3 separate regions of the Homo sapiens genome follow, and regions 1 and 3 are each linked to region 2. Evidence: fine-mapped expression QTL. A gene starts in region 2. Each other region holds a variant in brackets. All regions are shown on one strand. Distances are between the middles of the regions.

Region 1 (6,892 bases), 56 kb after region 2:
CTCTGCTGGCTGAACACTTCTGCAGGTTAGAGGCCTGTCCTTACCATACCTGCTGCAGCAGGGCAAATGCCCATCTGTCACAGAGGCTCACAGAAGTTAAGTGACTCACCCGAGGCCACAGAGCTAGGGAGTGGTAGAGCTGGGATTTGAACCCTGGTCTCTGATGGACCTGCATTCATTGCTCTGCTGAAAACAGAACAGCCTGCTCTTCGGTGCTTAGGATTGTAAAGTTGCTTTGCTGGAAACTTTCCCAAGCATGGGTGCAGCTTACAGCACAGAGACCTGGATTCTCTTCCTGCAGATTCTGGCCAGGACGGAGATGGGTAAATCACAAGGTCAAAGGCAGGAAAAGACAATCAACAGACCCAGGATGTGTAGAGCCAGCATCTTCTGAGGCCCCATCTATGCCAGGCAGGTGCCAAGCACTTACAGATCCTATTTCCAGACCCAGTGAGAGAATTGACGAACCCCCCATTTTAAAGATGAAGAAACTGAGGCTTAGAAAGGTGACGTGACTCTGCCCCGAAGAGACAGAGCCAAGCCTAGAATGCAGGCAACTGTAAAGGAAGCGCCTTTGCTGGCCGTGGTGTGTGGGCCGGTACTTGATGCAGGAGAGTTCCTGCTATAAATACGGTGCTGACTCCCGGGTAACCTTAGCTCCGGCTCACCCACCCAGGCACAGGGCCATAAATCCAGGGGCCGGCCACCTCCTGCTGTGCTCCTGCTCTGCAGAATTTTCCTGACACCCTAACAAGGCACTATGTTTTTCTCTACAGGTTGCAAGCTATTGGAGGCAATGTTGAGCTAGCCAACCCTGAAATGAGAGCTGCTTCTTCAGGTGCAAGCCAAAAAGCCCCACAAAATAGCCAGCCTCGCCCTCCTTGGGTGTGCAGGTGGGACTCCCGGGAAGAGGGGCCTAACCTGGCTTCTGTGCTAACAGGGTCTGAGGAACTGGGTTCGAATCCCTGCTCTGCCATTGACCAGCTGGGTGACCTCACATGTGCCTCTCTGAGCTTCAGTGTTCTTAGTTACACGGTGGAGCTGATAGCCCCCACCTCCAGGTAATAAACAAAACAGTGTGTCCAGGACACAGTGGGTCCTCTGCTCCCCTCATCTCCCTCTCTAGGTTGCTTATGTATTGGTGAAATAATAAGAGCTATAACCACTAACAATAAGCCTGGCGTTATTTTAGGTGTGTTACATGCTGTTAGCCATTTAATCCTTAGTGCACGTTGAGGAGTTAATGTCCCAGTATTGTCCCCACCTAATGGATGGGGAAACTGAGGCACAGTGCCCTTGAATAGTCTGCCCTAGGTCACACCAGTCACGAGTGGAGAGCTGAGAATGTTCCCACTGCCGACACGGCTTGGGGATCGGTTACTGAAAACAGGTGAAAATATTTCAGAGCAGTGTCCTTGGAGCAACCACTGGTTGCTGCCGGGCAGGAATCCTAGAAAGGCCTGAACTTCACACTGTGTGCTCCAGAAGACCCCCTTCTACCCATAAGTAAATATACCTTCCTGCACCAAGATGCCGCCTTTACTCCTGCCAGCCAAGTTCAACTTCAAACCCACATATTAGAGACAAAAGACCGTCACGTGGCATTCTATAGATGGGAAAACCAAGCCTGGAGCCTGCCCAGGGCCACCTGCCCACCAGGGCAGACAGAGCCAGCCTGGAATCCAAGCCCCACCTCCCAACCCAACTGGGCTGACCCTCTCCTAGATGGGGAAGGGATGGTGAGGCCCACGTCACCTCCCAGCCTCCAGGCTGCGCACACACGTGCATGCTCAGTGCCCATTCCTTTGCTCCGACGGGCTAAATATTGTCCTGGCCTTCCTGAAATACCCATCTCCATGCGGGTGGCTTTACAAACTGCTAAAACCAGGGCCATGTCCCTGGTGGAGAGGGAGAGCTATTCCGGGTTAGCGTCAGGTGTGGGGCAGGGCCAGCCAGAAAGAGCTGTCTGCTGGCTCCCGGGGCTCCCGCAGCCCCGGCGGGCAATTTCTGGCAGCCAGGACAACTGGCACCCAGTGGAAGAGGGTGAGGTCAGGCCCCTTCTGTCAATGTACCCCTCCCCAACACACACACACACACACACACACACACACACACACTCTCTCTCTCTCTCTGTCTCTCTCTCTCACACACACACACACACACACACACACTCTCACACTCTCACTTGCTCTGTTCCAAATCCTACCCAGCCAGGCCAAGGCGCTGGCACTGTTCATTAGTAACAGGGTATCTGCAGGGTGCTGTCACCCACGATCTGCCCCACACCCCCCAGGAGACCCTGATGAGTTCCGAGAGCCTCCGAGGTGGGGTTTTATGGAGAAGGAATCCACGTGCCAGCGACAATCGGTGGCTTACGAAGGAGGCCCTGCTGGAGGAGGCCAGACCTGGCTGCCTGGGCTGCCTGGGATGCCCATCTGCTGCCCAGGGTGCCCACCTGCTGCCAGCACGCAGGGCCCTGAGCACTCAGTGCACCCCAGGCACCCACAGGCGCTTTCACACAATATCATAAATTTAATTTTCACAGCCATTGGGGGGTTAGGACCACAGTCTCCATTTTTACCTGGGGACACGGAGGCTCAGAGAAGTTAAGCTACCTGCCCAAGACCACCCAGCCTGGAGGTGAAATAACTGGAATTTGAACCTGGACAGCCTGACTCCAGAGTCCCCCTGGATTTGGCCGTCCCCAGCCCCCATTCCGCCAAGGCTGGCTCTGTAACTGGCAGGAGCCGGGGGCAGCCAGCCAGGCACATAGGTGGCCAGTCCCCACCACAGCCTCTGGCCTCAGGCAGAGCAAAGGGCAGTGGGCAGACCCCAGAATCTGATCGCCCTTCTGCCTGCCTGTGTCGCTGGCCATTTTCAACCTAGAGGATATGAGGGCACACAGAGGGCCTGCCTGGTGCTGCCGGACCAGGGACTCAGAACGCCCAGAGGTCTCAGACTTGGGGAATCAGACGGAAGCTGTGTGCTCTCCCCCGCCGTTAAGTGTTCACACACACTCGTCTGCATGCGGTTCCAGTGGCCCACGGCATCCTGAGCCCACCCATGGGTCCCGTCGCAGCCCCTGCCCCTCTGTCCTGGGTCAGCTCTGGCCCCGGCTGCCAGCCCCAGGAGAGCTTGAATCAGGCACAGCTTCCTGCACTGGCTACACTGGGCAGTCAGGGGGTGTGGCGGAACCCAGCTTTGAAAGTCAAGCTCCCCCCTTCCAGCGGCACAGGCCCCCCAGGCGTCGGGCAAGGAGGAAGGGGGTCCAGCTCACAGCTGCCTGCAGCCTGCGGGGGCCCCAGTGCCCTCGGCGACTGGCGGCCTTGGCTCTGCAACCGGAGCCACAGCGGGTAAATATAGCGCTGCCACTCACCGGCGGAGGGGCCCTCGCCGTCCGACATGGTGTGGAAGATGGGCGGCCGGCTGGCCACCAGCCTGCAGGGTCACTCAGAGCCTCAGCGGCTGTCACCCA[C/T]CCAGCAGGGCTTGGGGCTCCTCCGCGTCCAGCCCCAGGCAGCGTCCCGCCCCGGCCGGCCTGGCCACCCCCCCATGCTGGGCTGGGCAGATAAGAACGTGCTCAGTGCCAGCAGCCTGTGCGATTGGTGGATAAATCTGGGCACTGCCCTCCCCCGCCCAGGGCCTCTCTGGGGCAGCCCCAGGATGTTGCTTGAGAAGCCACTGCACCCTTAGGTGCTTGGTCAGTCCCCAAGACTCCAGCTCCTGGGGACTTGGGAATGCCTGTACACTCTTTCCTTGGGAACGGTTCCACCCAGCCAGCAAGGGACGTTTACGGACATTTAGGGAAGGAGAATAACAAGTGATGCTACCACTGAGTACATGCCCGGGACCAGCAGTTATGTGAAGTGTGGCCACCCCTGTCATCTCACTGCTCTCCAGAGCTGCTGCGACCATCATGTCCATGTCACAGAGAGGTTAAGGGACCCACCCAAGCCACCGGGTCAGTACGGGGCGTGAGCAGGATCTGGAGCCAGGCTGTCTGTCTCCAAGGCTGCAGGAAGGCCGTCCCTTGCCTTTGATTGTTTGGCCAAAAGCAGCCAGCACTTCGGGCATCTACTGTGTGCTGAGTGTGCCACGTGTTGGGGGTCGACAGGGGATGGAGACAGGATCCCCAGGGGCAGTCATGTGGTCCTGGCAGAGTGTGGGTGCTCAGGAAAAACTGGTTGAAAGAATGCACTCCAGCAAGCTCTTAGTATGCTCTTGTGTACCTGGCTCAGAGCCAATCCAGCCCCTCCCCTGGTCCCCACAAAGTGCAGGGCAGGACCAGCCAAGGGCTGGAGATCCCAGAGGCATCACCCCAGGGTTGGGCTTTGCTGGGCCCCCCAGGCCCTAGGTCTACCTAGTTCTGTATGCAGAGACCAGAGGGAATGAAATGGCTTAAAGAGAAGGGAGAGAAACTCAATCTGAGAGATCCAGGAGGGCTTCCTGGAAGAGCAGGCATTTGAATTATCTTTAAGTGAAAATAAAGTTAGTTCTTTCTTTCTTTTTTTTTTTTTTTTTGCCACAGGGTCACTCTGGGGTGCAGTGGTATGATCACAGCTCACGGCAGCCTCAACCTCCTGGGCTCAGGTGATTCTCCCGCCTCAGTCTCCCTAGCTGAGAACACAGGTCTGTGCTGCCACACTTAGCTATTTTTTGTAGGCGGGGGGGGGGTCTCACCGTGTTGCTCTGGGTGGTCTTGAACTCCGAGCTCAAGCAATCCTTGTGCTTCGGCCTCCCAAAGTGCTGGGATTACAGGCATGAGCCACTGTGCTCAGCCCAGAAAGTTTTTTTTTTTTTTTTTTTTTTTTTTTTTTTTAGATGGAGTCTTGCTGTTGCCCAGCTGGAGTACAAGTGGCGCCATCTCGGCTCACTGCAACCTCCGCTTCCCAGGTTCAAGCAATTCTCCTGCCTCAGCCTCCTGAGTTGCTAGGATTACAGGCACCTGCCACCATGCCCGGCTAATTTTTGTACTTTTAGTAGAGACAAGGTTTCACCACGTTTGGCCAAGCTGATCTTGAACTCCTGACCTCAAGTGATCCCCAAGTGCCTCGGCCTCCCAAAGTGCTGGGATTACAGGCATGAGCCACCGCACCCAGCCCAGAAAGTTTTTTGAAGGGAATAGAGGGTGTTCTAGGAAGAGAAGCCAGCAGGTGTGGAGGTGAGAAAGCCCGGCTGAAGAGTTACAGGGGTCTCTGGCAGGGCTAGAGGTGGCAGGGGTCGCTGGCAGGGCTGGAGGTGGCAGCAAGCCTGAGAAGAAGGATGATGCTTATGGCAGGGGAGGCCTCAGGGCTGGGGAAGTCAGAGGAGGCTTCCTGGAGGAGGGGGCAGATGCTGGTGCTGAGGACTAATGAGCCTCAGGAAAATGAGAGGCGGGTGGAGCAGCGTGCTGGGGCATCCTGGCAGCTCTTCCATCTGCACTGAGGCCTTTTCTGGCTCAGGGACCTGGGGAGTGAAGGCAGGAGGACGAGGCCTCCATGTTTCCAAAGGAAGCCCTATCTGTGGGTGGGGTGGGGAAGAAGGCTGTGAAGTCACAGCCTCCACGCTTCACCCCTGCACTGGCCATCGGAGAGAAAGAACTCAATCTCTATGGTATAGGCATTTGCCTGTGCTGTTCCCTTGGCCTAGGAATTCTCTGTCCTCCTCTTTCCGTGGGAAGCTGTGGCTGCCCCTAAAGGCAGCTCAGGGGCCCTGCTCCATTTTCCCTTGCCCCACACTCCACTCTGCCAACTCCGACCTCACTGTGGTCAGTGCCTAGTCCTGGCTGTGTCCCCCTCTTGGTTGGCTCTTGCTGCCCTGTCAGATAATGAACTCACCATCACTGATGGTATTCAAGCAGGGCTGCGCAGCTGCTGGGCGGGGACACAGCGGAGGGAGCTCAAGCATCATGTAGGGTTAAATGGCTGTGGGGTCCCTCCCAGGTGACCAACTTGTCCCGTTTCCCTGGGACTTCCCCTGTTTTAGCCCTGAATGTCCTCCATGGATCCTGGAAACTGACCCCCCACCAGCTTCAGACAAACCAGGACTGGTGGCCATCTTGGGTCCCTCCTAACTGAAGTTTTCTTTCCTCCTAACTGAAAATTTAATTTTAAGAGAAAAAAGAGAAAGACAAAGCCAGACCTCCCCTGGAACTGTCTCCTCCACCCCGAAAATTCCCCTCGTCCCTCCGCATCCCCTAGGTGTGATTCCAGGACAACTCTGGGGGAGGGGCGGAGGTGGAACCACGGTGCTCTGTGCCTTGGGCTGGGGTGAGGGCGCGGCAGGGAGAAAATCGGGTGCAGGTCAGCAAAGACAGAAGCCCAGTGTCTTCCCCTGCAAAGTGGGAGGAGCCCCGCCTGCCCGGCTGTGGGCTGAACTGAGGTAGCTCTGCGGCACTTGGCAGACTTCGGGTATGCACAGGTGGCATCTGTATCCCCGGGGAGGGGGTGTGACCAGGGAAGGACTGGCGTGAGTCCCTCGCTGGGCACCTCTGCTTTGCCTTGGCGCGGCAGCTGGTGTCAGGCACTGGAGGGAATGGGAGGCATGGACTGGGGGCTGACCTGTCTCCTAGGTCCCACCCCGCTGTATGGGCTTCACACACTGTGGCCCCTCTCAGTGCCTGCTGTCTGGCACACCCAGGCCCATGGGTCAATGCCAGGCAGGGCCTGTGGCCACATCTCGGGTCTCAACTCCTGTCACCCTTGCTCTGGGCTCCCTGGGATGGGATGGGATGGGCTGGGCTGATGGAGGGGCACGCTGTGGGACAGAGGGGGCCAGTGCTGACCCCCCAGGAACCCCTATGAGACTGCCAGAGTCCAACCCGGGGTTCTACAGGTGTGGGATGCATCTTGGTGCTGGACAAACTGGCACTGCAGAAAAGAGCCCCGCCACACCACCCGCCTCCCCGACAGAGGCC
Region 2 (6,892 bases):
GCACTTAATGGTACACTTTAAAAACACATTTTTATGGTATGTAAATATTTCAATAAAGCTATTACTCTCTCACACACACACACACACACACACACACATACACACACAAAGATTTAGACTGGTATCCAAGCCCTTCCTAGTTCTGTGGCCTGATAAAGTTGCCAAATCTCTTCGAGCCTCCGTTTTCTCAGGCACAAAGGAAGGATGGTAACACCACCTACTTCAAAATGAGGCCTCGAAGAAAATATGGAGTTATTTCCCAAATCATAAATTGTCTTATAAAGGATAGCTACTGTTCACTTTTTAAAACACTTCAGGTTTTTTTTTTTTCCCAGCATTAAAAGAAGTTTGTGAGCTGGGCATGATAGCACGCACCTGTAGTCCCAGCTACTTGAGAGACTGAGGTAGGACTGCTTGAGCCCCAGGAGTTTGAGTCTGCAGTGAGCTGTGATCATGCCACTGCACTCCAACCTGGGTCACAGAGCAAGGTGTGGCTCAAAGAAAAAAAAAAAAAAAAGCTTGTGATTTCTAGCTCACTTTACAGATTTCAAATACTCTGAAGAAAACAATGCACACATTTTCTGCTTAAATGAGAAAGACAGTTCCTGAAAGATGAGGATGAGCCTTTTCAGGAGGCTAGATACTGCCTAACTTTGCATTTAATGTCCACTACAAATTATGAGGAGAGACACCAAGAAAGAAGTATAAGAGAAGACAGAAATTTCATTCATTAGAACAAACTTTTCTCTTTCTCCCTTCTCATTTACACATTATCTTCTCTCTCTCTCTCTCTCTCTCTCTCTCTCTCTCTCTCTCTCTCTGAGACAGGGTCTCACTTTGTCACCCAGGCTGTAGTACAGTGGCACAGTCATAGCTCACTGCAGCTTCAAACTTCTGGGCTCAATCAATCCTCCCATCTCAGCCTCCTGAGTAGCTAGGATTACAGGTTCAAGCCACCATGCCCAGCCAACTTTTAAAAATTTTTTGTAGAGGGGGGTCTTGCTATGTTGCCCAGGCTGCTCTCAAACTCTTGGCTGCAAGTAATCCTCCCGCCTCAACTTCGCATATCTTGATCTTGTCTTTATTTGACCAGAAGGAAATTAACTATGACAGTCATCCAAATAATATGTGTGAATTATATTTTCTAAAGCTGTAACCATGATTTTTTAGTTTCTGTCACTATTAACAGCATGACGCATACTGAACATATGAAAATGTATGAGTTCATGTATTATGCTGCTGTCTTGCCATTGTAATGTAAGTCTCTCATTTAAAAAGAAAAAATTGTTTGCCAATGTAGCTAATGAAATATCCAAATGTTTAATTTAGTTCCTAGTGAAATGGCATTTCTGTGATCCACTGCTTTAATTGAATCATCATAGTAATTAACTGACTTGTATTCATTTATATCTTCACTTAATGAAAGCCTCTTAAAATGTTTCACATCAAAACATCTGTTGCCTAAGACATCACCAGTTAACATTGACTTCTGCCCCATAGGCCACTCTTGCTTTAAACTTTATTCATTAGACAACCTAAAAAAAAAATAACAAATACAGAGCTGAGAACTTTTTGAGAAAAGTAATTCAATAGTTATAAAGTGATCTTATTGTTTGATTCTAGTTAAGGTGGTTTTTCTTTAAACCAATACTTCTACAAAATATAAGAGTTGGTTTTTACTTTCTTCTGGACATCACCACCAGTAAAATACCATGCCAATATCTCTAGGCTGGCAATTAAAAGGAAAATGCAGAAAACGAAAACATTCATGAACAGACGTGTAGGTCAACTTCATGACTAAACTGCTATTTAGGAACAGTATGACCAGGCCCCAAACAACTGCTCCAATAAAAATATCTAGGCTCATTTTCATATCGCAAATCAAGCTGTCAATAATACGCCCACAGATTAAATTTGTAAGACCTGATGCCTCAAAGTCATTTAATACAAATTTCAGCCACATATCTTTCCAACTAAGCATAGGGAGAATTCTACCATAAGCATATAACTACTTTTTAGATCAAAAACAATAATTCAAATATGATTGATTATAAGTCAATTAAGGAACCTATTCAAAATGTTAATTGAGGAATCTATTTAACCTACTGGAGAGCAAAACCGTTCCCATGACTCTATACTATAAAGTATTCCAGGGACCACCAGCATACCAAATACATTCTACCTGCCCTCAACACCTTCTGAGGCTCAAAAACACAGGTGTTCTGCTCTTGGAAACTGGCGTTAAATTCAGAGAAAAAGCAGAAACTTTCTTTAATTCCACTGAAGAGGGAATTACTAAATTCATGAAGGCCCACAAATGGTTCAGATGTAAAGTATAAGCTGCAAAAGCTATCAGAGTATACATTCTACCATGAACAAGATGATAAATTTCACCAGAGATAAAAAATACCACTACAGAGGATGAATCAACACACTCATTACTCTTTACTGCTACAGTGACAAACAGGTGTCGAATAACAAGAAAACTTTCCCTAAATCACAATACAATAGCAAAATAAATTGCTCCAGTTGTCAAAGGGTCTAGAATTCAAAATTATTCCGACTGCACTTAAGCAAATTCTATCAAATACACATTTTTTTTTCCCATTAACAAACTTTTGGGGCCCTTTGATGGAGCAATAAATCCAACATGTAAAAAAAAAAAAAAGTGTGGTTAACTTTTGTGCGTGAATTATCACACATCATGTTCTGATAAAATATTCAGTGTGCTATGAAAATCTTTTTCAACCCTGCCAATGAGACTGAAATCTTTCAAGCATGTAGGATTTCATATTTTTAAAAAGATGCCATATTGGTGGATATGAATGTTTCCTTCCTGTAAAATTGCAAAAACAAAAAAAGAAAAAAGAATCCATTATCCCATAAACAAAATAAGAAGCAACACTGAGGCCAGGTCCACTTTGGCTTTCCATTTAAAAAGCTCTAGATTGTATTAAATTGTGATGATTTCATTAAAGTAGACCTGAATGGGTTCTGGGGGTCCAAACACTGCGTGCATCCTCGCAGGAGGGTTTTGTTATTAAAGGATTTGTTTCCCGAGTTCTTCATCCAGTCATTTCCAAACAGATGTGGGTCGGGAAGCAAAAAAGCAACACGTTCCCCGGAACGCGGAGGCTGCCCGGGCCTCCCCGCCGCCCTGTGCCCCACGCGCCTCCGCCCGGGCGCGCTCCGCGGGTGCTGGAGCCGGCGGGGTCCGCGCGCCAGTGCCGGGAGCCGGGGTGGCGGCGGGGAGCCCGGGGCGGCCCGGAGCGAGGCGCGGCCCCGCGGCTCCAACACAATGCGCCGGCGGCGGGAACGGGGACCGCGCGCCCCTCCGCAACAACTTTGCGCGGCCTCGCCCGCGGCCGCCGGGCCTCGGCCCCTCGGCTTGGTCCCCGCCGTCGCCGTCGCCGCCGCCCGCCACCAGCCGCTCGCCGCCCCGGCCCCGCGCGGCCGCCCCTCACCGTTGCAGAACTGGAGCAGCGAGGACGTGTCGTACAGGCTGCTGTAGCTGGAGAAGCCGTCCTCCATGCTGAGGCCGCCGGGCCGCGCCCGCTCCCCGGCCCGGCCGCGCCGCCGCCGCTCACCACACACTGAGCTGAGCCCGACCGCGACCGGCGCTGGCGCTGGGGCCGGCCCTGCTGTGGCGGCTGCTGCTGCCGGTTACCATGGCAACCCCGGGCCCGCCGCCGCCGCCGCAGCCGCGCGAGCCCAGCGCCCGCTCCGCCCGCGAGGGGGCGGCCTCGGCGGCCGCGGGGCCCGGGCCGGGAGGGGGACGTGGCGGGGCGGGGCCGAGCCTCCCCGCGCCTGCGGCCTCTTTCCCCGCGGGGAGCGCGGCCCGGGCGGCCTGGGAGCCGCAGGGGCGCGTCTGCCGCCCGCTGTCCCCTTGGCCAGGCCCCGCCTCCGCGCACGGGGGCTCAGGGGCTGCGGGGCGCGGCGGGCGGCCCTTGCGGGGGCGCGGGGACAAAGACCAAGGCCGGGAGAGAGCGGGCGCGTGGGGCCCGGGGTAACCTCCGCCACGGACACCCAAGCCCACCCGCCCCCGACGCGCTGTTCCCGCGCCCGCGGGCAGCTCCACGACCAAACATGGACAACGCGCCCGCACATTTCGGCCGTTTCCACGCCGCGGCTCACTGTGGCCCACATCCGACCGGCGCGTTCCTCTGTCCACACGTTTTTCCGCGGCAGCAAGGCCCTGCCTCAGTGAGACTTAGCACGGGACTGGCAAGTCAGCTCGAACCTTCGCTCACACTGGGCCAGAGAGGCTATCCTGGTACCAGGCTGGAAGTCCCCCGTGTTGAGGACTCGACGCAGCTAAAACATCGCTTTGTGGTTTCTCTATGATCAGCCCCTGGGATACAGATCTGTCACGTTACAGGCTTGTTAACTTGCTACAGGACTAAGGAAATCAGTATTTATTCTACATCAGAAAGACACCAAGAGTTAGGAGAAAATAGCGCAGTCGGAGAAACACATAGATCTATGAGTTTGTAACTTTTCCAGGCCATACACGTATAAATGCTGTTAATGGTTCGCATTTTATACCCATGGAGTAAAGTAAGTAAAGATGCGCCAAATAACGAGTGGGAAGCAATAAATTAGAATATATAAAATGGATCATCTAACCCAAGAATGAGCTTGGTCCCAAAGAGACTGCAGAACGTTTACACTTCCTGTTGCATCAGTCATAATTCAGTTCCATGCCAAAATCTGAAATGGTAGGTACTAACTTGTGCAGGTTGAATAGAGTAGGTGAAATAAGAACTGAGTAAGTTAAAATTAGGAAAACTCGTAGGTCTCGCTTGGGCTCAGAGGCCTGTCCTTCCAGAAGCCCAGCTTGGACATCAGTAGATGGCAGGTGAGGGACAGGGCTCTGTCACTCTGCGTGCGGCACGGTTAGTGCATGGGTTAGTAAGGACTGGTGCTATATGCTGTGGGCAGAGGGAGAAGTTTAAGAGCTTATTCCTGTCCTAGCAGGATTGTTAATTGGGAAGATACATTGTGAGTGAAGGCTGAAGGGCCACAGGTGCTGCGGGTTTGACTGTGACTTGGTGGATGGAGGACAGTGGGCAGGACACTGCTAGTGAGGAAAGAAGGAACGGTGCCTGCAGACATTGTGCAGACAAGTGGGAAATAAGACTGGACTGAGGGCAAGGGGCCAGGTAAGAGAGGCCCCAAGAGCTGCAGAGGAGCCTGAACCAGACTTGGGGGGAGATGGAGGAACGCTTGGAGGGTTCACGCAGGCAGGCCACTGTTGAGAGCTGTGTTAGGGAGCTGGGTCTGCCTGCCGACTGGGCTGCAGGGGCCGCGGCCTGTTGCTGGAACAGCCCAGGATGTCTGCAGTGCTCCAGAAATGAGGCACCAAGGGCCGGCCAGAGGGAAGTTGCTATAGGACCATACAGCTGGAAAGACAGGAAGGTCAAGCGGGGACAGCACAACCTCCAATTAGAAGTGCCCTGTAGCAACTGGAGAGAAAGAATTGAGATTTGGGAGTTGTCAGCAAAGGGGTTGTAGATGAAGTCTCTAAAGAAGAGAATAGAAAATCGGACAGGGGCTGGGGTACAGCCTTGACAAAGGAGAGAGAAGGACATTCCGAAGGAATGGTCAGAGAGGCAGGAGAATCAGCAGAGGACATTGTCTCTCTAAGCTAAGAGCACAGAAAGCTTCCAGTGGGCATTTGCGTAGAGTTCTCTGCAGGAAGAGTCAAGGAGGATGAGGCTGGGGTGAGGCTCTTCTGTCTGGTGGCAGAGGGCTCCCAGGTGACCTGGAGCACCCTGGTGATGCAATAGGTTGCTGGATATCAAAGGGAGAGGGCAGGTACATGCACGTTAGAACACTTTGGCAGGGAGGCCGAGGGCGGGGCTTATGCCTGTAATTCTAGCATTTTGGGAGGCCGAGGTGGGCAGATTGCCTGAATTCAGGAGTTCAAGACCAGCCTGGGCAACATGGGAAACCCCGTCTCTACCAAAAAAAATACAAAAAATTAGCCAGACATGGTGGTGTGCACCTATAGTCCTAGCTATTTGGGAAGCTGAGGTGGGAGAATCACCTGAGCCCAGGAGGTAGAGGTTGCAGTGAGCCAAGATCACACCACTGCACTCCAGCCTAGATGACAGAGTAAGACCCTGTCACAAAAAAAAAGGAAAAGAAAAAAAGAAAACTTTGGCAGGGAAAGGAAATGGGGGGAGGGGCCAAAGTTGGCAGAGGGCCAGGTAAAGTGTCCTCTTGCGCCCGCCTGGCACAGGTGGGTTCTCTGCCTCTCTAAGGCAGCAGGCAGGTGCTATGGAGAAGCGGCTTTCAAAGGGTGAGACTTAACACCCAGATGCACATTTCATCTTCCTCATTTCCCATCTGTCTATTCCAGTGTTCATGCTCTCTCTATTCCACTTTGCAGTTTTATACTTCAGGATATGTTGGATGATTGGCATAAAAAGCTGAGGTGTGGTATTTCTGAACTTGAAAAGGAAGTAATAATCATGAATAATTAGAAGATGGTTTTCTTTAAAGCCGGGTGTGGTGGTGTGTGCCTGTAGTCCTAGTTATTTGGGAGGCTGAGGTGCGAGGACGACTTGGGCCCAGGAGGTTGAGGCTGCAGTGAGCTATGATTGCACCACTGCATTCCATACAGTGCAGCTGGGGCAATGCTCAACTCCAGCCTGGGCAACAGAGTGAGACCCGATCTTAAAAAGAAAAAAAGAATGTTAGCATTCCTTATGTTTAATGTTATGATATTTGGTGGCCACAATTTAGACATGGGAAAGGAGACATATATTTAAAACTTCAGCTGCCAAATTGAGCTGGAGATTTTCTTAGAAGATATTATTTCCACTAAAGTTACAAATAAGACAATTAAGAACTCAGTCCACTTTCTTTTGAGATGATAAAGAAGATC
Region 3 (6,892 bases), 26 kb after region 2:
GTAACTGAGCTGATACTATGGACTGAACATTTGTGTCCTCCCAAAATTCATGTGTTGAAATGCTAATGAAATGGTGGAATTTCGAGGTGAGCCTTTGGGAGGTGATTAGATCATAAGAGTGGAACCCACATGAATGAATTTATTTCCTTAAAAAAAGACATGATCTCTCTTCATGCAGGTCAAAATAAAAAAGATAGATAGATAGATAGATAGATAGATAGAAAGAAATTTTTTAAAAAGACACGAGAGCTTGCTTCGTCTTTCTTTGCTTTCCACCATGTGAGAATACAAGAAGAAGACAATTGTCTGTGAACCAGGAAGACAGCCCTCCCCAGACACCAGATCTGCCAGCACTTTGATCTTGGACTTCCCAGCCTCCAGAACTGTGAGCAATAAATGTCTCTTGTTTTATCCACCAAGTCTATGATATTCTTTTATAGTAGCCCAAACTGACAAACACAGCTCTGATGATCATAGGAGGACAGAGGAGGGTCATTCCACTATCTTAGGGGAAATGGGGGGGAATGGTACAAAGGTTAAGTGTCATCAAAACCCGGTGGACAAGGAGAGAAAAGCAAAGTGAGCAAAGTAAAGAGGCGGGAACGTTTGTGCTGGCATGTATGGGCCATCAGGTGGCTGGAACTTGCAGGGGACAGAAGGGACTGGTAGGGAATGTGGTTGGAGGGGTGAACTGGGCCAGACCAAGCTCAGCAGAACCCATTTCTATTCCCAAGAAAAGGAGGAAAGAGGAGCAAGAACAAGATAAGGAGGATCTGCTGGTGCTGATTGCTGCCCACTTCTCAGCCAGCTCCTCATGGGAATGTAGCCTCGGAGGAATTGTCCCTACATTTAAGTGGTGTCCTGAGAAAACCTGAGCATTAAAGGCAGGTACATCTGGAAGCCATCATGACATTTGTCCTGATGCTGAAACTCATGTGACTGATTTCTCAAGTGTAGGGGCAGGTACTGCAGAGACTTGATAGTGACCATCACCCTGAACTAGTTGTCAGGTCTCAGAAAGAAGTGATATCAGATTGACAAACCATTGAAACTGACCTGTCTGCTCTAAATGCATGGCCCTGGGGAGAATGGGATCCCTGGAAATGGAGAGGAGCTTGCGTCCCTGCCCACTGTGGGGGAGGCCAAGGTTACTCAGGGCTGGGGCCAGCACTGCCTACTGAGGACAAGCCTTGAAGGGCTGTGTGCTTCCACTTCCAAAGGGCCACCTCCTGCTGGTGCCCACGGTGAGGGCCCTGTGATGGGAGAAAATGATCCTTGGAACAGTGCTCCCTGTCTGTGTGCTGACACCCCAGCTCCCCGAGTGCTCAGCACCTGCTGCAAAACCGCTGGTGGGCTGACTTGACCGAGGAGATGGCCACGCTGCTCAGAGTCACTAGCAAATGTGGGGCTCAGAGGCTGGCTGAGAAAGGAGGACCAGACAGGGAGCCTTCCAGTTGGTTCCCCTACTAGGTAGAGGGGTCTGTAGTTCTTGGTAACCTCAAACCCACATCGAAACCACCAACCAATACCAGTTTGGGTCACCCTGGATCCCCAAACTGCTGTCAAAAATAATATACAAGCAGGCCAGGCGTGGTGGCTTACGCCTGTAATCCCAGCACTTTGGGAGGCCAAGGCAGGCAGATCATCTGAGGTCAGGAGTTTGAGACCAGCATGGCCAACATGGTAAAACACCAACTCTACTAAAAATACAAAAATTAGACAGGCATGGTGGCGGGTGCCTGTAATCCCAGCTACTCAGGAGGCTGAGGCAGGACAATCACTTGAACCTGGGAGGCAGAGGTTGCAGTGAGCCAAGATTGTGCCACTGCCCTCCAGCCTGATGACAAAGGGAGACTCCATCTGAGAAAAAAAAAAAAAAAAAGACCACAGAAGCAGCCCTGGGGATTGTTGGAATGCATCTCTACCTTCCCCTTTCCCCAGCTGTTCTGGTGCAAGAGTCACACAGTTGAAGCTCCGCCCATCTTTGTGCCCAGTAATCCCGTGCTGTCACAGAGATGGCCACTCCTGGCCCTGGGCCTGTCTGCCTTACCCCCACCTCCTCCCTTTGCTATATTCCAGCCATGTGGAGTGACTGATAGTTCCGTGAGCCATATCATGCTGCTCTGTGTCTCTGCGCCTGTGCCCGAGTTCCTTTGGCCATTTTGGACCCTCTTCCTCCGAGGCAGCTCCATCAACCCCACAATCCTTCCTGCCACAGACGTCACCACCCCAGCTCAGACAGCGGCTCCGTGAGACCCTCAGAGACCCCATCTCACCACTCCACCATGAAGAATGAGTTCCTCCCTCCCCTGGGTCACGTCTAAGAATAGCACACCCTTGAGAATTTCACTTAGCACGTGGCATTGTAATGGCTGGATTTCCTCCGCTCTAAGACACACCTTTATGCTTTCGAAGCTTTCTGGAATTGGGATGAATCTTACATTCAATGTGCACCCTTCGTGTGGGATCACTTCTCCGTGCCCCATCTCTGGGAGAAGCCACTGGGAAGTCGAAGGAGTGACTTCAAATCAGGGTGACTTGGCCTCTTCCACCTGATTTACCCTGTGCCCACCAGCCCAAGGCAGATGGGACCTGGCAAGCATTTACTGGATCTGAATTTGAATTCAAGGATTTCTTGAGGCCAGCTCTGAGTATAGTTGTGTGCTCAGCAAAGTAGTGTGGGGGGTGTTCAGAATAAATATAAGACAAAGTCTCTGTCTCCTTGAAGCTCATGGCGAAATCCCTGTCTTGTTGAAGGTGACAGATGTGTATGTGAATGAGGGGACTTGGGGGAGGCCTTGAGGAAAGCAGCCAACAGTAATGCAAGACAAAGCCACCTGCAACAGCACCTTGGCCTGAAATAAGGGGGGGCTTGTATTTGGCTTTTGTTTTTTGAAAAGGGTCTCACAATTTGTAAATGTCTTGCATTTTTTTCAAAGGATCCCACAGAGAACCCTAATTCCCATTCTCCATCCCCCTCTTTTTTTTCTTGAGATGGAGTCTCACTCTGTCACCAGGATGGAGTGCAGTGGCGTGATCTCAGCTCGCTGCAACCTCCGCCTCTCCGCTTCCTGGGTTCAAGCGATTCTCCTGCCTCAGACTCCCGAGTAGCAGGGCCTACAGGTGCGTGCCACCACACCCAGCTAATTTTTGTATTTTTAGTAGAGTTGGGGCTTCACCATGTTGGCCAGGATGGTCGCCATATCCTGACCTTATGATCTGCCCGCCTTGGCCTCCCAAAGTGTTGGGATTACAGGCGTGAGCCACCGTGCCCGGCCAATGCCGTTTTACAGAGAAAAGAACTGAGGCTTGGAGAGAAATAGTCTTGCCCAAAGTCAATGACTAGCAAGTGCTGGAACCAGGACCAGACCTGACCCATGCTCCCTCTCGGCTATAGTAAGCTCTGGTTCATGGAACCCAGCTCTTCTCCTTAAAATAGAAATTTGTAGCCCACTTTTTAGCAGAAGTCAAATCTCGTTTCCGTGAAATAAGAAGTAATCCCTGAAGTTTCTCACC[G/A]TGCCTTCTTCTCACACAGTCACCATGGCGATGGAAAAATATTATGCGGTGGGGGAATTATGGGACTGTGATTCAGCAGGGCCAGCAAGAGGACCTTTGGAAAACGGTGACTCCCAGTGGACACGCTGCATTTTCAAAGCCAACACTCCAGGATGATGGATTGCACTTTGCTTCCTATAGAAGCCCGGTGGCCAGCCTCTCTCCATTAGCGGCCGACCCTCTCTCTCCATGCAAACATTTTTCTTACAAGAAAAGCATTGGTCATTTATTACCATGATTGCTGCTTGGCAACCTGGGATTGTGGAAATCAGCTGGCTTCGTTAAATTTTAAACATTTATCCTTGCCAAGTGAAACAAATTATTGATGTTGATTTGGGCGGACATTTAACATTTTCCAAGAGAAATTCAATGGTGAAGAGTTCAAACCTGGTTTTTAAGACTAGAATGGTGGAGCTGTTCATTTGACATTAACTAATGCTGGAATACAATAGTCTTCCTCAGCTGCTGTTGGGAAGCCCCCCTAAAATTGCTAGTTGGTCTATGTGTGATAGAAACATACCAACTGAGGTCTTCAAAAACATTAAAAATTAGGCCGGACATGGTGGCTCACGCCTGTAATCCCAGCAATTTGGGAGGCAGAGGTGGGTGGATCCCCTAAGATCAGGAGTTCGAGACCAGCCTGGCCAACATAGTGAAACCCTGTCTCTACTAAAAATACAAAAATTAGCTGGCATGGTGGTGGGCACCTGTAATCCCAGCTACTCAGGAGGCTGAGGCAGGAGAATTGCTTGAACCCACAAGGCAGAGGTTGCAGTGAGCCAAGATCACACCACTGCACTCCAGCCTGGGCAACAGAGTGAGACTCTGTCTCAAAAAAAAAAAAAAAAAAGTAAAAGTTTAATTTCCATGTGATCCAACAATTGCACTTCTGAGTCTACCCCCAAAAGAATAGAAAGCAGAGACTCAGATAGGTGTTTGCACACCCATTTTCCTAGTAGCATCATTCACAATCGACAAAAGGTGGAAACAGCCTAAGTGTTCATTGATGGATGAATGGGTAAGTAGTAAATAAAATGTAGTAATCATTTTATTAACCATTAATCGTTAGCCATGAATGTGTAAGTAGTAAATAAAATGTGGTAACCATTTTATTAACCTTTAATTATTAACCATTAATCCAGGCCAGCCACGGTGGCTCATGCCTGTAATTCCAGCACTTTGGGAGGCCAAGACAAGCAGATACTTGAGGCAGGGGGTTCAAGAGCAGCCTGATAAACATGTGGAAACCATGTCTCTACTAAAAATACAAAAATTAGCCAGGCGTGGTGGTGCACGCCTGTAATCCCAGCTACTCGAGAGGCTGAGGCATGAGAATCACCTGCGCCTAGGAGGCAGAGGTTGCAGTGAGCCCACATTGCATCACTGCAACTCCAGCCTGGGCGAAAGAGCCAGACTCTGTCTCAAAAAATATATATATATATAGTGCGGTAAATCTATACAATGTAATATTTTTAACTTTAAAGGAAGAAAATTTTGACACGTTACAACACGGAGGAACCTTGACTTGAGGATATATAAATGAAATAAACCGGAAATAAAAGGACAAATACTATATGATTACACTCACATGATGTACCTAGAGCAGTCAAATTCATAGAGACAGAAAGTAGATTGGTGGTAGCCAGGGGCCTGGCGTGGTGGGGGGAGGTTATTGTTCAGTGGGCACAGAGTTTCCGCTTGGCAAGATGAAATGGGCTGTGGAGATGGATGGGAGTGAGGATTGTACAACTATGTGAATGGACTAATGCCACTCAACTGTACACTTAAAATGGTTAAGACGGGCTGGGCATGCCTATCTTACACGCCTGTAATCCCAGCACTTTGGGAGGCCGAGACTGGAGGATTACTTGAGCCCAGGAATTCGACACCAGCCTGGGCAACATAAGAAGACCCCACCTCTACAAATTAAAGAAAAAAAATTAGCTGTGCATGGTGGCATTCGCCTGTGGTCCTGGCTACTCGGGAGGCTGAGGTGGGAGGATCATTTGAGCCCAGGAGGTTGAGGCTGCAGTGAGCCATGATTGTTCCACTGCGCTCCAGCTTGGGCAACAGAGTAAGACCCTGTCTCTAAAAACGACAACAACAACAACACCAACAACAACAAAAACGATTAAGATAGTAAATTTTGTTATATATTTTGCTATAGTAAAAAAAACAACACTGACTGAGGAACGGGCAGGACAGCGGTTTGGGTGTCCCTATACACTGACTTGGATCCAGTCCTGGCCATGCCAAAAGTCTATCAAGAAACTGTATCACATCCTGCTCCAAGCTCCTGTGGTTCAGTGGCCATGTGGAGCCCACCCTGCTGCTTCTGTGCCTGGGCTGGAATTTGGGACTTGTCTCCCCTTTCCTTCTCAGCCACCTCCTTCTCTCCTTGCAGCGGCACTTCCAGGAAGCCTGCCCTGACGCTCCTTGGCCTTCATCTGTTCGCCAACCTGCATGCTCCACTAGACTGTGAATGTACAGAGCTCGCTGCTGAAAGCCTGCTCTTGAGACCAGCAGCATCCGCTAAACCTGGGAGCTTGTCAGAAATGCACATCACCCAGGGAGACTTCAGTGGGGAAGACCAACCCAGGGCTCTGCCTCGGCCAGGACGGTGGCCAGGGAAGTGGAGTGGAGGCTGAACAGGGCAGCTGAATTCCAGCCCCACCTGGCACTATCTGCGTGACCTTGGGCAAATCGCTTAGCCTCTCTGAGCCGCACTTCCCTCATCTGTAAAATTGCAGGGCTGCTGCGAGAAGGAAGGAGAACAACCTGGGTGAAGAGCTGCTGTGAGACCTCTGTGAGCTGGGGGAGGAGGCAGGAGGAGAACAGCTCTGGAGCCACCCAGCCCAACGTCCTCATGGAAGAGTGAGCCACACAGAGAGGGCAGTGAAAGGAGGAAGGTCACACAGCAAGTCAGCGGTGGCCTGAGACTAGCGGGCATCTCCACTGCCCCCACTCACTGGTACCAGGGCTCCTCAGCCTGCAGCCAACTGTCTCCTCCTCCAGAAACACTTGGGGACCTCGGCTGCCTGGCGGTGTTAGCAAGAAGAAAAGGGCGGCCCCAACACACCCCCAGCTGCCTTCCAAAGAAGCCTGCACAGGTCATGAACCTCTCAGAACACAAATTTCCTGCAGGCCCCGGCTCCTCCAGGGCTGTCCTCCACCTTGCATGGCAGAGGTGGGTTTGGTGATTTGGATTAGGGTCCTCCCGGTGCTCCCTGCTGCCCTGAGAGCCAGCCCACATCATTATCCATGCTTGTGTTTATTACACAACTGTGCTGAGGTCAGAGAGGTGAGGGATGTAAAAGGTGAAATCAATCGAAACATC

Which allele goes with the higher level. Alleles are on the strand shown, and positions count from the first base shown. SD is a standard deviation of normalised expression in the study named.
With allele T in place of C in region 1, the expression in skeletal muscle of the gene that starts at base 3,595 in region 2 is lower (large effect, 1.1 SD a copy in FUSION).
For the expression in tibial artery of the gene that starts at base 3,595 in region 2, A is the high allele of the variant in region 3 and G is the other (small effect, 0.35 SD a copy in GTEx).

Evidence for each region. PIP is the estimated chance that this variant, and not a neighbour inherited with it, causes the effect.
Region 1: its variant is fine-mapped to the expression of EML1 in skeletal muscle (FUSION, PIP 0.95).
Region 3: its variant is fine-mapped to the expression of EML1 in tibial artery (GTEx, PIP above 0.99).

What each region holds. Positions count from the first base shown.
Region 1 is chr14:99,734,345-99,741,236 of GRCh38, reverse strand. It overlaps a transcript of EML1 not described here. Among named protein-coding and RNA genes, the nearest start is that of CYP46A1, 53 kb to the right of the region's middle. RefSeq lists enhancers at 1,275-2,085, 2,897-3,707. The variant C/T (reference allele first, on the strand shown) is at 3,476.
Region 2 is chr14:99,790,116-99,797,007 of GRCh38, reverse strand. It overlaps EML1 (EMAP like 1), which reads right to left and starts at 3,595. Exons shown (of 22, transcript NM_004434.3): 1 at 3,465-3,595. The coding sequence starts at 3,531. RefSeq lists an enhancer at 2,843-3,674 and a silencer at 3,422-3,901.
Region 3 is chr14:99,763,708-99,770,599 of GRCh38, reverse strand. It overlaps a transcript of EML1 not described here. Among named protein-coding and RNA genes, the nearest start is that of EML1, 26 kb to the left of the region's middle. RefSeq lists enhancers at 790-1,746, 1,747-2,705. The variant G/A (reference allele first, on the strand shown) is at 3,517.